Linked DNA regions of Homo sapiens. The protein of the gene in region 3 purifies or fractionates together with the protein of the main gene of each other region. This does not show direct contact. Each region holds a gene or a part of one and is shown on either strand. Other genes may lie near its edges.

What was found.
Region 1: the proteins of GBX1 (region 3) and QPRT purify together in Homo sapiens (affinity purification with mass spectrometry; one large-scale study listed by BioGRID and IntAct). This does not show direct contact.
Region 2: the proteins of GBX1 (region 3) and DNAJC6 purify together in Homo sapiens (affinity purification with mass spectrometry; one large-scale study listed by BioGRID and IntAct). This does not show direct contact.

Annotation. Positions count from the first base shown.
Region 1 is NC_000016.10:29,685,673-29,689,281, reverse strand, and holds part of QPRT (nicotinate-nucleotide pyrophosphorylase [carboxylating]), read right to left. Parts: intron 1-3,609. UniProt on the Homo sapiens protein: Involved in the catabolism of quinolinic acid (QA).
Region 2 is NC_000001.11:65,316,036-65,319,644, reverse strand, and holds part of DNAJC6 (auxilin), read right to left. Parts: exon of another isoform or gene 3,497-3,609; intron 1,319-3,496; exon of another isoform or gene 1-1,318. UniProt on the Homo sapiens protein: May act as a protein phosphatase and/or a lipid phosphatase.
Region 3 is NC_000007.14:151,164,807-151,169,000, forward strand, and holds the start of GBX1 (homeobox protein GBX-1), read right to left. Parts: upstream 2,889-4,194; 5' UTR 2,743-2,888; coding exon 2,205-2,742; intron 1-2,204.

The DNA.
Region 1 (3,609 bases), on a different chromosome or scaffold from region 3:
CTCTACTAAAAACACAAAAATTAACCAGCTGTGGTGGCAGGCGCCTGTAATCCCAGCTACTTGGGAGGCTGAGGCAGGAGAATCTCTTGAACCCAGGAGGCAGAGGTTGCAATGAGCTGAGATTGCGCCATTGCAATCCATCCTGGGTGACAGAGTGCAATTCGGTCTCAAAAAAAAAGTTAAATTTAAAAACAAACAAAAGGCTGGGCGCGGTGGCTCACGCCTGTAATCCCAGCACTTTGGGAGGCTGAGGCAGGCGAATCACCTGAGATCAGGAGTTTGAGACCAGCCTGACCAATATTATGAAACCCCGTCTCTCCTAAAAATACAAAAATTAGCCGGGCATGGTGGTGTGCGCCTGTAGTCCCAGCTACTCGGGAGGCTGAGGCAGGAGAATCGCTTGAACCCAGGAGGCAGAGGTTGCAGTGAGTCAATATCGCGCCATTGCACTCCAGCCTGGCCAACAAGAGCGAAACTCAGTCTCAAAAAAAAAAAAAAAGAGAATAAAAACAAACAAAAAATTAGCCTGAGGTCAGGAGTTCAAGACCAGCCTGTCCAACATGGCAAAACCCTGTCCCTACTAAAAACACAAAACTTAGCTGGGTGTGGTGGCATGTGCCTGTAATCCCAGCTCCTCGGGAGGCTGAGGCACGAGAATTGCTTGAACCTAGGAGGCAGAGTTTGCAGTGAGCCGAGATAGCACCACTGTACTCCAGCCTGGGCGACAGAGTGAGACTCTGTCTTAAATAAATTAATAAACAAACAAATAAATAAAGTAACTTTGATGGGCTCACTCAGAGGTTCTGTCTATAGCCAAACCTCACTCAGGTTCCCTCAGCTCTTTTCCAGTTAGGCCTTGGACTTCCGTGTTCACCTCTGCATCGTCCAATTTTAGCAAGAATACTGCTAAGTCAGCTTAGCCAGTCCCTCATCCTCCACATCTGATTGCCCCCGATCCCTGATGGGGGTCCTCATTCTCCACTCTCCCCCAGGCGCTGTCTGACCACCTTGGCCTGCCCTCAGCAAGAATCCCTTTAGGTTGGTCTTGTCAGAATACCCCCAACCCCCAGTGCTTTCTCATGGTAATGTCCCATCCACTGCCCCCAACTCTGCTCGTTGGCTATAACCCCCATGGTGTAGAGTTCAGCCCAGTTCTGATCTAAGGTCACTCTTCCCCTACAGCAATAGTCTGGAATGCAATATGTTTTTGCTATTTTAACGACTGTCTAGTTCTGGTTTTCTTTGATCACTCTCCTGCTGAAAACTGACCTTTCATGGTTTCAGCTCCAGTTCTCTTGACTTTTTTCTTTCTTTCTTTTTGAGACAGAGTGGAATGCAGTGGTGCAATCATGGCTCACTGCAGCCTTGAACTCCCGGGCTCATGTGGTCCTCTCACCTCAGCCTCCTGAGTAGCTGCTCCACCATGCCAAGGTAATTTTTTTTTTTTTTAATAGAGACAGGGTCTCAAACTCCTGGCTTTTAAACATTTTTTTCTTTTTCTTTTTTCTGAGACAGTCTCACTTTGTTGCCCAGGCTGGAGTGCAGTGGCATGCAATGGAAAAGGGATGGACCCCCGAGCTTTGGCAATAAAAGTAGACTCACTGCAGCCTCTGCCTCCTGAGTTCTCCTGCCTCAGCCTCCTGAGTAGCTGGGATTACAGGCATGTGCCACCATGCCTGGCCAATTTTTGTATTTTAGTACATTTCTGTATTTTATAACAGCACGAGGAGGTCATTATTGTCATCCCTGTCACAGATTAGGAACCCAAGGCCCCTGAGGGTTGTCTCCAGTCCACAATCACTTAGTGACAAGTGGCAGAGCCAGGGCTGGACCTCAGGTGTGCGGCCCCAGAGCCTGGGCTCTGATTCACTGTGCTACGCAACCTCTCTGATGGGATAAGTATCCTAGCTCACATACTATGAAGCTAACCAATATAAAATTGCCAATATTTGGCCGTTTTGACCAATAAAAGCAGCACATTTATATGGTTCAGTATACGAAGCACTTGGATATAGCAGAAAACTCAATGGCCAGACACAGTCTTTGCCCATCGAGAGGAAACAGCCGTAGACTGTGATGATGGGGGAAGAACAGGAAGCACAGAGGGACCAGGATCTAACCTCCGGGCGTGTCTGTGAGGCCCCTGCTGAGGAAGTGATGTTTAAGGGAAGACCTGCAAGAGGAACAAGAGCTGAAGGGGGAGATTGGGGATGAGGATAAGGGAAGGGGCTTCCAGGCCAAGGCACAGTCCTGCAACAGCATAGGCTAAAGCCTGACAAGTAAGAGAAAGAGCTGCCCACGCTGTTGCCTCCATGCCTAGCAATTATTAACACCCCACACAGTGCAGGTGCTCAATGAGGATGTGTCAGAGAATCAGTGAAAAATGGAAAGAAGTTGCCAGGTGTGGAGGCTCATGTCTGTTAATCCCAGCACTCTGGGAAGCCAGGGTGGGAGGAAGACAAGGCCAGGAGTTGGAGGCTGGGCACAGTGGCTCACGCCTATAATCCCAGAACTTTGGGAGGCCGAGGCAAGTGGACCACTTGAAGTCAGGAGTTCAAGACCAGCCTGGCCAAGATGGTGAAACCCCGTCTCTACTAAAAATACAAAAAATAAAAAAAATTAAAAAAATAAAAAGCCGAGCGCCTGTAATCCCAGCTACTCGGGAGGCTGAGGCAGAGAATTGCTTGAACTTGGGAGGCGGAGGTTGCAGTGAGCCAAGATTGTGCCACCGCACTCCAGCCTGGGCGACAGAGCAAGACTGCGTCTCAAAAACAAAAAACAAAAGACTTTATGTTTGAAAGCCCTTAGGAACACTGTCTAGCACAGGGTAGGCGTGCTCGCGAAGAAAAGAAGCGTTTCTCAAGTGTGGTGGACTCATGGAATAAATGACTAGGTGTCTCTGAGGACCGGTGAGTGATGTTTGCCAGGCAGAGGTGTGGGGTGGGGCTGACATTTGGGGCTGAGAAAACTGATCTGTTCACCTGCAGACAGTGTCGGGGTGGGGGCAGTGTGGGATTCACAGGTGACATGGTGGGAGGAGAGGCCACAGGGAGAAAGAACTAAACTATTTAGCTGAGGAATTTGGCCAGATCGCAGAAGCCATCATAAAATTTCATTTTATTGGCCGGACACAGTGGCTCACACCTGTAATTCCAGCACTTTGGGAGGCCGAGGTGGGCCGATCACCTGAGGTCAGGAGTTCGAGTCCAGCCTGACCAACATGGTGAAACCCCGTCTCTACTAAAAATACAAAATTAGCCGGGCATGGTGGCACATGCCTGTAATCCCAACTACTCAGGAGGCTGAGGCAGGAGAATCGGTTGAACCCGGGAGGTGGAGGTTGCCGTGAGCTGAGATCCCACCATTGTATTCCAGCCTAGGCAACAAGAGCGAAACTCCATCTCAAAAAAAATTTTCTTTTCATTTTATTTTATTATTTTTAAGTAGAGACGGGGGGTCTCGCTATGTTGCCCAGGCTGGTCTTGAACTCCTGGGCTCAAGCAGTCCTCCCACCTCGGCCTCCCAAAGTGCTGGGATTACAAGTGTGATCCACCATGCCTGACCCATCACAGAATTTTAAAAGAGGGAGTGATATGATTATGGTTTTGC
Region 2 (3,609 bases), on a different chromosome or scaffold from region 3:
GTTTTTTGTTTTTTTTATTTTTTCCAGAGAATTCTGAAAAAAAATTCTGGTTTCAATAATCATCTTCCAAGTTTCTCAGGTGTTTGATTATTCTTGCTGTGCCTCCATCAACAAGCAAGGAACCAGAGTCTAGGGCTCTCCCAGTGAGAAGGGGCCACCCGATACAGACACCGTACTGGCCTCGGGCCTTAGGCCTGGACTCAGCCCAGAGCCACAGAGCTTCAGTTCTAGCATTTCTACCCATTATCTCACTCTTCCTCCAGGCAAACACAGGGCCTGCTTCTACCACACACCCCTCCACAGCACTCCCCTGGGCATCTGCACAGCCTAATGGGCAGCCTACCAAAAAGCTGAAAGCCTGGTGAAAGCTTGTGCCAAGCTAACAGTATTCTCAGCCCTTCCACAAGTATGTTCATGGTGAACTTGCAGCAGAGAAAAACAGTTGATCACATTTTCCACTTCTGGCTGAGACTAGAAATACTACCTTCTCTCCTGCTGCCATCCAGGTATCTCCTGTATCTCAGACCCCACCATTGGTTGGTTGTCAGTCTGTCATTCACCTGTGCAATGCTTCCCCAGGCTGACTTTTTCCCAGTCTCACTGACACTGCCCTGGCTAGGGCCTTCGTTGTTTCTCAGGTCATCAGCTAAACTGCAATTTGATTGTTCTCCTGGTCCTCCACTGGCATGCTCTGTCTTCCAACACACCCCTCCCCTTCCTCCTAAATCAAACATGCTTGGGGCCCAGGAATCTGTGTTTTCTTTTCCTTTTTTTCCTTCAACTTTTATTTTAAGTTCTGGTGTACATGTGCAGCATGTTTGTTACATAGATAAACGTGTGCCATGATGGTTTGCTGCACAGACCAACCCATCACCTAGGTATTCAGCCCAGCATCCATTAGCTATTCTTCCTGATGCTCTCCTTCCCCCGCCCCACCCATGCCCTGACAAGCTCCAGTGTGTGTTGTTCCCTGCCATGTGTCCATGTGTTCTCATCTTCAGCTCCCGCTTATAAGTGAGAACATGCAGTGTTTGGTTTTCTGTTCCTGCATTAGTTTGCTGAGGATAACAGCTTCCAGCTCCATCCATGTCCCTGCAAAGGTCATGATCTCATTCCTTTTTACGGCTGCATAGTAGGGAATCTGTGTTTACTCAGGTACATCTGATGCAGCCAGATCACAGTTAGGAACCACCGGTGGGATTCATCCTTCACACAGCTGTAAATTATCTCCAGGATTCACATTTTGCCCTCTTTTCCCTGGGGCTGCAGTATGACTTTTGTAGGCCGTAGGCATTTTTACCTTCATGGACCTATTCCTCTATTAACAGAAAAAAAAACATATATTTTAATGACTGCATTTGAATAAAGATGAATTCATTATTGTTATACTTATTTATTTTATTCTGATTTTTAAAGGCAATTAAAATGTAAACATTTTTGTGGACCCTAAAATTATTGTGGTTTCTAGACACTGTGCCTAGTAGATAAGTCAGCCCTACCTCACCCCATCTCCAAATCTTCACTGGCCTCCCACTGCCTGCAGAATAAAGTCCAACCTCCTCAAGCAGACTCACCCTGACCTGGGTCTTATCTTCCCAGCACCATCTGCTATAGCACCTCCCACCCATCTGGGCTCCAGCTTCAAGCCTAAATGCAATTCTCTAAACATACCATGCACTATGATGCCACTGTGCATTAGCCCAAAGCCCAAAACGGGTTTTCTTTCTTTCTTTTCCTACAGATTTCTGGCTCAAATATCAACTTCCACTGTGGCCTTCTTTAGTCTTCCTGGTTAAAATTATGGCTCCTTCTTCTGCACCCCTATTGCACTTTATATAACTATTATTATACTATTTATTCACCCTGACTTTTGTCAAATATCTCCAATTCTAATTGCACTTTTTTCACAGCATAACACTTCTAAAATTAGGAAGTGGCTTACAATGTATGCCAAACACACTTGCCAGCTACCAGGTAGAGTACTACACCACAATACAACAACAGTAATTTTCTGCACATGCAAACTTAACACTGCACAGGAGGCATTGGCTCATCTGGTTGCTTCCTTGGTGGTGACATTTGCGCTGTTAATACTACACGCATTTTAATTTTAATTTAAAGTTTCTATCTCTAGCACTTTTAAAACTATGTTCTGATGTGTTATTGAAATAAAAAGATATTTTTTGCATCTAGACTATGGCCTGTGACATGTGGGATAAAGCAACTAAAGGTAGTAGAAATTGCCAGATCCCTTGGCACATGTTATGGAACTTCCTAATTTCTTGGACCGTGAAGAACTTCTCCTCAGATACTGAGCTACTCTTTCAAAAGCTTCCAAGTAAATTTCAGGAATAGCTGTTTAATATACAATAACTGTAATTTAGTTTTTTCAGAGTTACACCTTTCGCAACAAGGAAATGCACAATCTAAACTCCAGCATTCTTCATCCATCTCAAACATAGCTTTTTTCCAAAAGGAGTTCAAGATGGTGAGCACAGATTTAAAAAAGCAGTTAAGTTAGCACAAAGCTTATATACAACTGCAGACGGCCAAAGATGATACAAAGAACTTTTAATATTAAACCTGAAAATGGCTAAGATTAAAACTTAATGACACCGATTAAGAAATACACAGATCTATAGATGAAAGTCATCTATTGTCAGTTCATTAAAAAAATTGTATACATTTTGAGTTTCCTTTTTTGGCTAAAAAAAAAAAAGTGACCTTTATGATGAATCATACAGTAGATTGTATTTGTTGGTCGAAAAAGCACAATCTTTTGGTAAGCTAATTCTTTCTTGACATGTCTATATTAGAAAACTGTTAAGGATCTAGGCTATATATTAACCATCTTTCTTTCACTTCCAGTGTCTTTACATATGAAAAAATGCTCATTACTGAATTGGTCTAGCTTTCGACCAACAGTTACATTTCTCTCAAACCTGGCCTCATTTCTGTTAAAACCTAGCTGTATGCTTATTTTTAGATTTGGATGGGCATATTTCATTATAAATGCCCTTTTAAAAATTCAAAATCCATTCATGCTTTTGTGCATCCAACAAGTATTTATCAGGCTCCTAATAAATGCCAAGCAATGACAAGACTACAAAGGCAAATAAGACCCAGCCTTGCTCTGAACTTTACTTACAGACTAGAGGGAGAGACAGGCCAGGCAGCATGTCACAACTCAATGTGATGAGAGCTGTGATACGGAAGTAAAGGCTGCTGAGGAGCATGGAGAATGACCATTGCATGCAGCCTGCGATTAAGGAATATCTGAGCTAAACCCTGAAGAATGAATAGGAGATAACCTGGAAAAGTGGGTGTCCAGGGGTCTATGGGATAAGTTGGCCTGAGTTGAGAGAACAGTGTATGCAAAAACATAAAGATGGAGGTGCAGGCTGGGGAGGGGATCTACCAGTGGAGCGACAACAAGTTTTGTTGGGCCAGCTTTCACAGGTGCCACAAAGGGCTTCTGATGTCCTGTTAAGAATACCTTGGATTTTATCCTAAGAGCAGTGGGGATCCATTTTCATTTGCAATATATTTTTCCAAAAATATATAATGCTTCATCAATTGTATTGTTCTCTCAGTGCCGTATCAAGTCTT
Region 3 (4,194 bases):
TTTTCCTCGGATGATGAAGCTCTGTCATTTTATATAAATTCCAGTTTCCCCTCACTCTCAATATTAAAAACTCTTTAAAGAAAATTACTCCTAGTGTTGAAACTTTTCCTTATTCCCCTAGTATTTTTATTTAGTTCCCCCCAAATCCTCTCATGACAGAACTCTTACACACACACACACAAACACACACACACATACACACACACACTCACTCACACTTGTGGTCCAGTAATACAGTTCACTTTTCATTTAGTCCAGTCCAGAGTTCCTTTTCCAGCAGAGAACCCTCTCCTTCTTCATGTTCTCTTTGTATATTCCAGTATACAACTCATCCCCTGGTCCTTTCCTCTATTCTTGTTTCATCAGTATTTCTCTTCTGTTTTTTCTCTGCTTATTCCTCTCTTTCTCAATGTCTGTTTTTATAGCCAATATACTATATGATCCAGAAAAGAGCTCCCATTATACATATAGGTCAAAATAAGAACTGAGCAGACCTGAAAGGGTGGGACAAATTGCTTGTTGTCCCACAGTTTGGGCATATGCCCCTAAGTCCCCGCTACCAAGGGATCCCCCCTCCATCCTCTCTCTTCAGCTCATCTCTTTCTATATGTGTCTGGTTACACCTTCAGGTCCTATCTCCTCCAAAGTCATCTCTTTGATGGCCTGTCTTACTCTTTTTTCTGCCTTAGGACCATCCTATTCTGACAATCATACTAATCTTTTTTTCTTAAGATCATCCTGCTGGCTTCCAGGCTCCCGCCCTGGGCCCTTTTATCTTGTGGACATTTTCTCCCACCTTCCAGTTGCTGCTCTATCTGTTCCTTATGATCCCCCTTAGAAGATGCTATTCTGACTTCAGTTACTGGGTCTTCCTGATCCAACCAGGTACAAAAAAGAAAACAACAGCTGAATCCCCAAAAGCAAAATGCCAGGGCGAAAGGAGAAAAGAATAGGAAGACAGGCCCCATGGCAGCCTTTGGGGTCTGAAAGAGTGATTAACCCTTTGGACAATGTCAGAAAGGGCCCCATAACTGATAATCAAGAATTATCTCTGCTGGCAAAGGACAAAAGCACTCTTGCATTCCCTTCTTGTCTCTGTTCAAGTCAGCTCCCAGGCCTACTGGGGTCATTTCCACCTCTAAGCTGGATGCAATGAATGGTTGAGCAGAAGCGGTTCCATCCTGATACTAAAGATGTTGAAGCATCAGAGTCCCCACACTTGCAAGTGGTGCCTATTTTTCTTAAATAGGGCCCAGCAAATTGTATAAGCTTTGGAACTCAGAACACCTGAATCTGTCTAGCCAGAAGAAAGCTTTTCTGGCTTCTAGGAGTTAAGGACCAATAGAGAGGTCAGGAGGGCTCTAATTGAATGGACTCTAAACAAGGTTCAGTTTAATACACCCTGCCTCTATGGAGAGGGCACCATTCATGGAGGGTCCAGGGCCCTTGAATTATCTGTCAGCTGAATCTTAGCTGGGTTCTGCACCCTAGATCTTTGGGCCACACCCAACTCAGCCCAGCCTTTAGCCTCTCTCTTGGTCTCCTAGTCAGCACTTGTCCAGCGTGTGCTAGGCCTCCTGTAGCTAATGTTCTCTTTGGCCCCCTACTCAGTTCTTCAAGGCTTAGCTCTGAATCTGCCAATTCAGAAGTCACGGCTTTGAGACGCAACCCCCCCCCCCCAACACACACACACACACACACTCTTTTTGCCCCTGCATCCACAGAGCCTATTCCTATCCTTTGAGCCTTTAGGGTCAGTATGATCTCCTTAGAAGCCAGAACGTGCCCTCCATTGCTGAATTGACAGCTGCTTCAACATACCCCCATCTTGGTGCCCCCGGAAATCCCATCCTTGTAGCTTGTCTACCCCTGACAGAGGAGGAAAAAAATGAAGGAATTCTGAAAAGGAGACAGGGCCAAGTCTTGATGGCTAGGATGCTGAGGGAAAGGCACTAATGTGAAGGGAGCACTGCAAAGTCTTCGGTTAGCCTTCAGGGCTATGGGGACAGAGCAGGGCGGGGGTTCTGGAATCTAAAGAGGCTGTATTTGGAACTGAATTGGAGTCAGAACCTGCGCGCGATCTAAAGGTCTGGGACTTCAAGGCTCCAGGCAGGTGCCGAGGTGCCGAGGTTCCGAGCAGGTTCCTGTCTGGAATTTCCAGGTGAACCGGCCTCCCGCCAGCCCTGGTCGGCCCTAGCACTTACCGGGCAGACTTGGAAAAGTCTCTGAGAAGTGCGGAGGCGGAGGTGGTGGGGGCTCTGCCACTTTCTCCCGGGCCGGCAGCAGCTCATCAGCTTCCAGCCCACCCTCTGGGCGTCGGCCGCCTGGCTCGGGGTTGTTTCGGGCGGCAGTGGCGGCGGCGGCGGCAGCGGCGGCGGCGAGCTCCTGGGGCCCGTAGAAAGCGTCGGGCGGCTCCGCGAAGCTGGGCAGCGCGGTGGTCAGCGCCACCATCGAGGGCACAGCCTGACCCAGCCCCGCGCAGAAGGTGTTGGTAAGGCGGCCGGCGAAAGAGGCTAGCGGGGCGAGGGGCGGGAGGCCAGCGGGCAGCGGCGCAGGGGCCAGCGCCTGCGGCAGCACGAGCGGCCGGTAGGGCATGAACATGGGGTAGCCGGTGTACAGCAAGTGGCCGGAGCGCGGCGGCGGCGGCCCGATTAGGGAGTCGATGGAGAAGGCAGTGCCCGGGCCCCCGCCGCCGCCCCCGCCGTTGCCCCCAGGGGCGCTACCGCCTCCGGCCCGCTGCATCTTGTTCGGAGCTGCGGCCGCCCCGGGGCGCTCCTCTCTGGGCGCCTCCGTGCGCCCCGCGGCTCGGGCGCCCCGCGCGGACACGCAGGGCTCGCTCCCTGGCTCCCGGGCCGAGGTGGCGGCGGGGCGCGGGCTCGGCGCAGTGTGGCTCCGGCGCCGCGCTCCCTCTCTCTCATAAGGAGGGAGGGGGCGGGCGAGCAGGCGGGCTGGGGGTGTCGCCCTCCGGACTCATCCATCTTCCTCAAATTACGCTTCATTTCCTCCCTCCGCCCGCCGCCGCCGCGCCCGGCTCCCGCTCCCTCCGCAGAGCCCGTTCCCAGCGGCCCGGCCGGCCGGCCCGGGACCCCCACCCGCCCCCCGCGGCCCAACCAACTATTATTAATGGAGATTGATGAGGCCGGACACGCCGCTTTGTGAAAGTTTGCGGCCGACGAGAAGGCGGCGGCAGCTGCTGGGCCGGTCCCCTTCCCTCCACCCAGTCCACCCCCCCAACTCAGCCCACCTGGCCCGGGCTCCGGCTAGGAGGGCAAGCGGGAGGTGGCCCAGGCTCCGATGGGGCGGCGGGGCCGAGCGTGGATGGGACACCGGGCGGCAGGCGGAGAGGGCGCACCAGCAGGGACAGGCGGCGGGGCCGGACCTCAGCACCCCTCTGCTCCGGGCCGCCGCCCTCCTTCGGGCCCCAAGTCATTCCCCGGCGTGCCTCCCAGCTCCGACACCCCTCCCCTGCCCGTGGAGCGGACGTTGTGGCGGTCCCCAGAGCAAGCTCCGGCGCGACGGGCGGGACAGCACGGCCACCGCCCCCTCCAGCGAGAGCGCGGGGCTGAGGGAGGCGAGGCGGGGCCGACAGGGGGCGCGCTGGGCCCGCCCGGTTCTGCGGCTTAGGGCCACTCTTACGGGGCCCCTTTCCTCCTATCTGCCCCATTCGCACTCTGGCCTCTGGTCTCTATTCTCTTGGCATTGGCTCTTCACCTTCTTCCTCATTCCCTCCTCCATCTCCAACTTCCCCTAGTCCCTTTCTCTTGCCTCGGTGGGTAATTTCCTTGAGTGCCCACACTATGCCAAGTACTTACCATTCCTCTGACCTTTCCCCTCCATCTTTCTCCCGTCCTTTACATTCTTTTTCTTCCTCCCACCCCTCTTCCCTTTCCCGTCCTCGTTTCTATTCCTATTCCTCTGATTATTTCTTTCCCATCTCTCATTCCTTATCCCAGTCCCTCTTACTCGATTTTTCTCATGTCTTTCCTTTATCTGTATCTCTTGTCTGTCTGTCTGTCTATCTCTTGTCTCCCTCCCTCGCTCTCTCTCCTTCTCTTCTGCTATTAATTTTCCCTGATTGGCTCCCCAGCTCCAGCGCCGCTGATGAGCCCTATTCATTCCCGGGCCTGACACTCACGACCTGCCCTGGCTGATTGCTGGGGGCTGGCCCCAGGAGCGCTGATGAGCCCCAAGGGT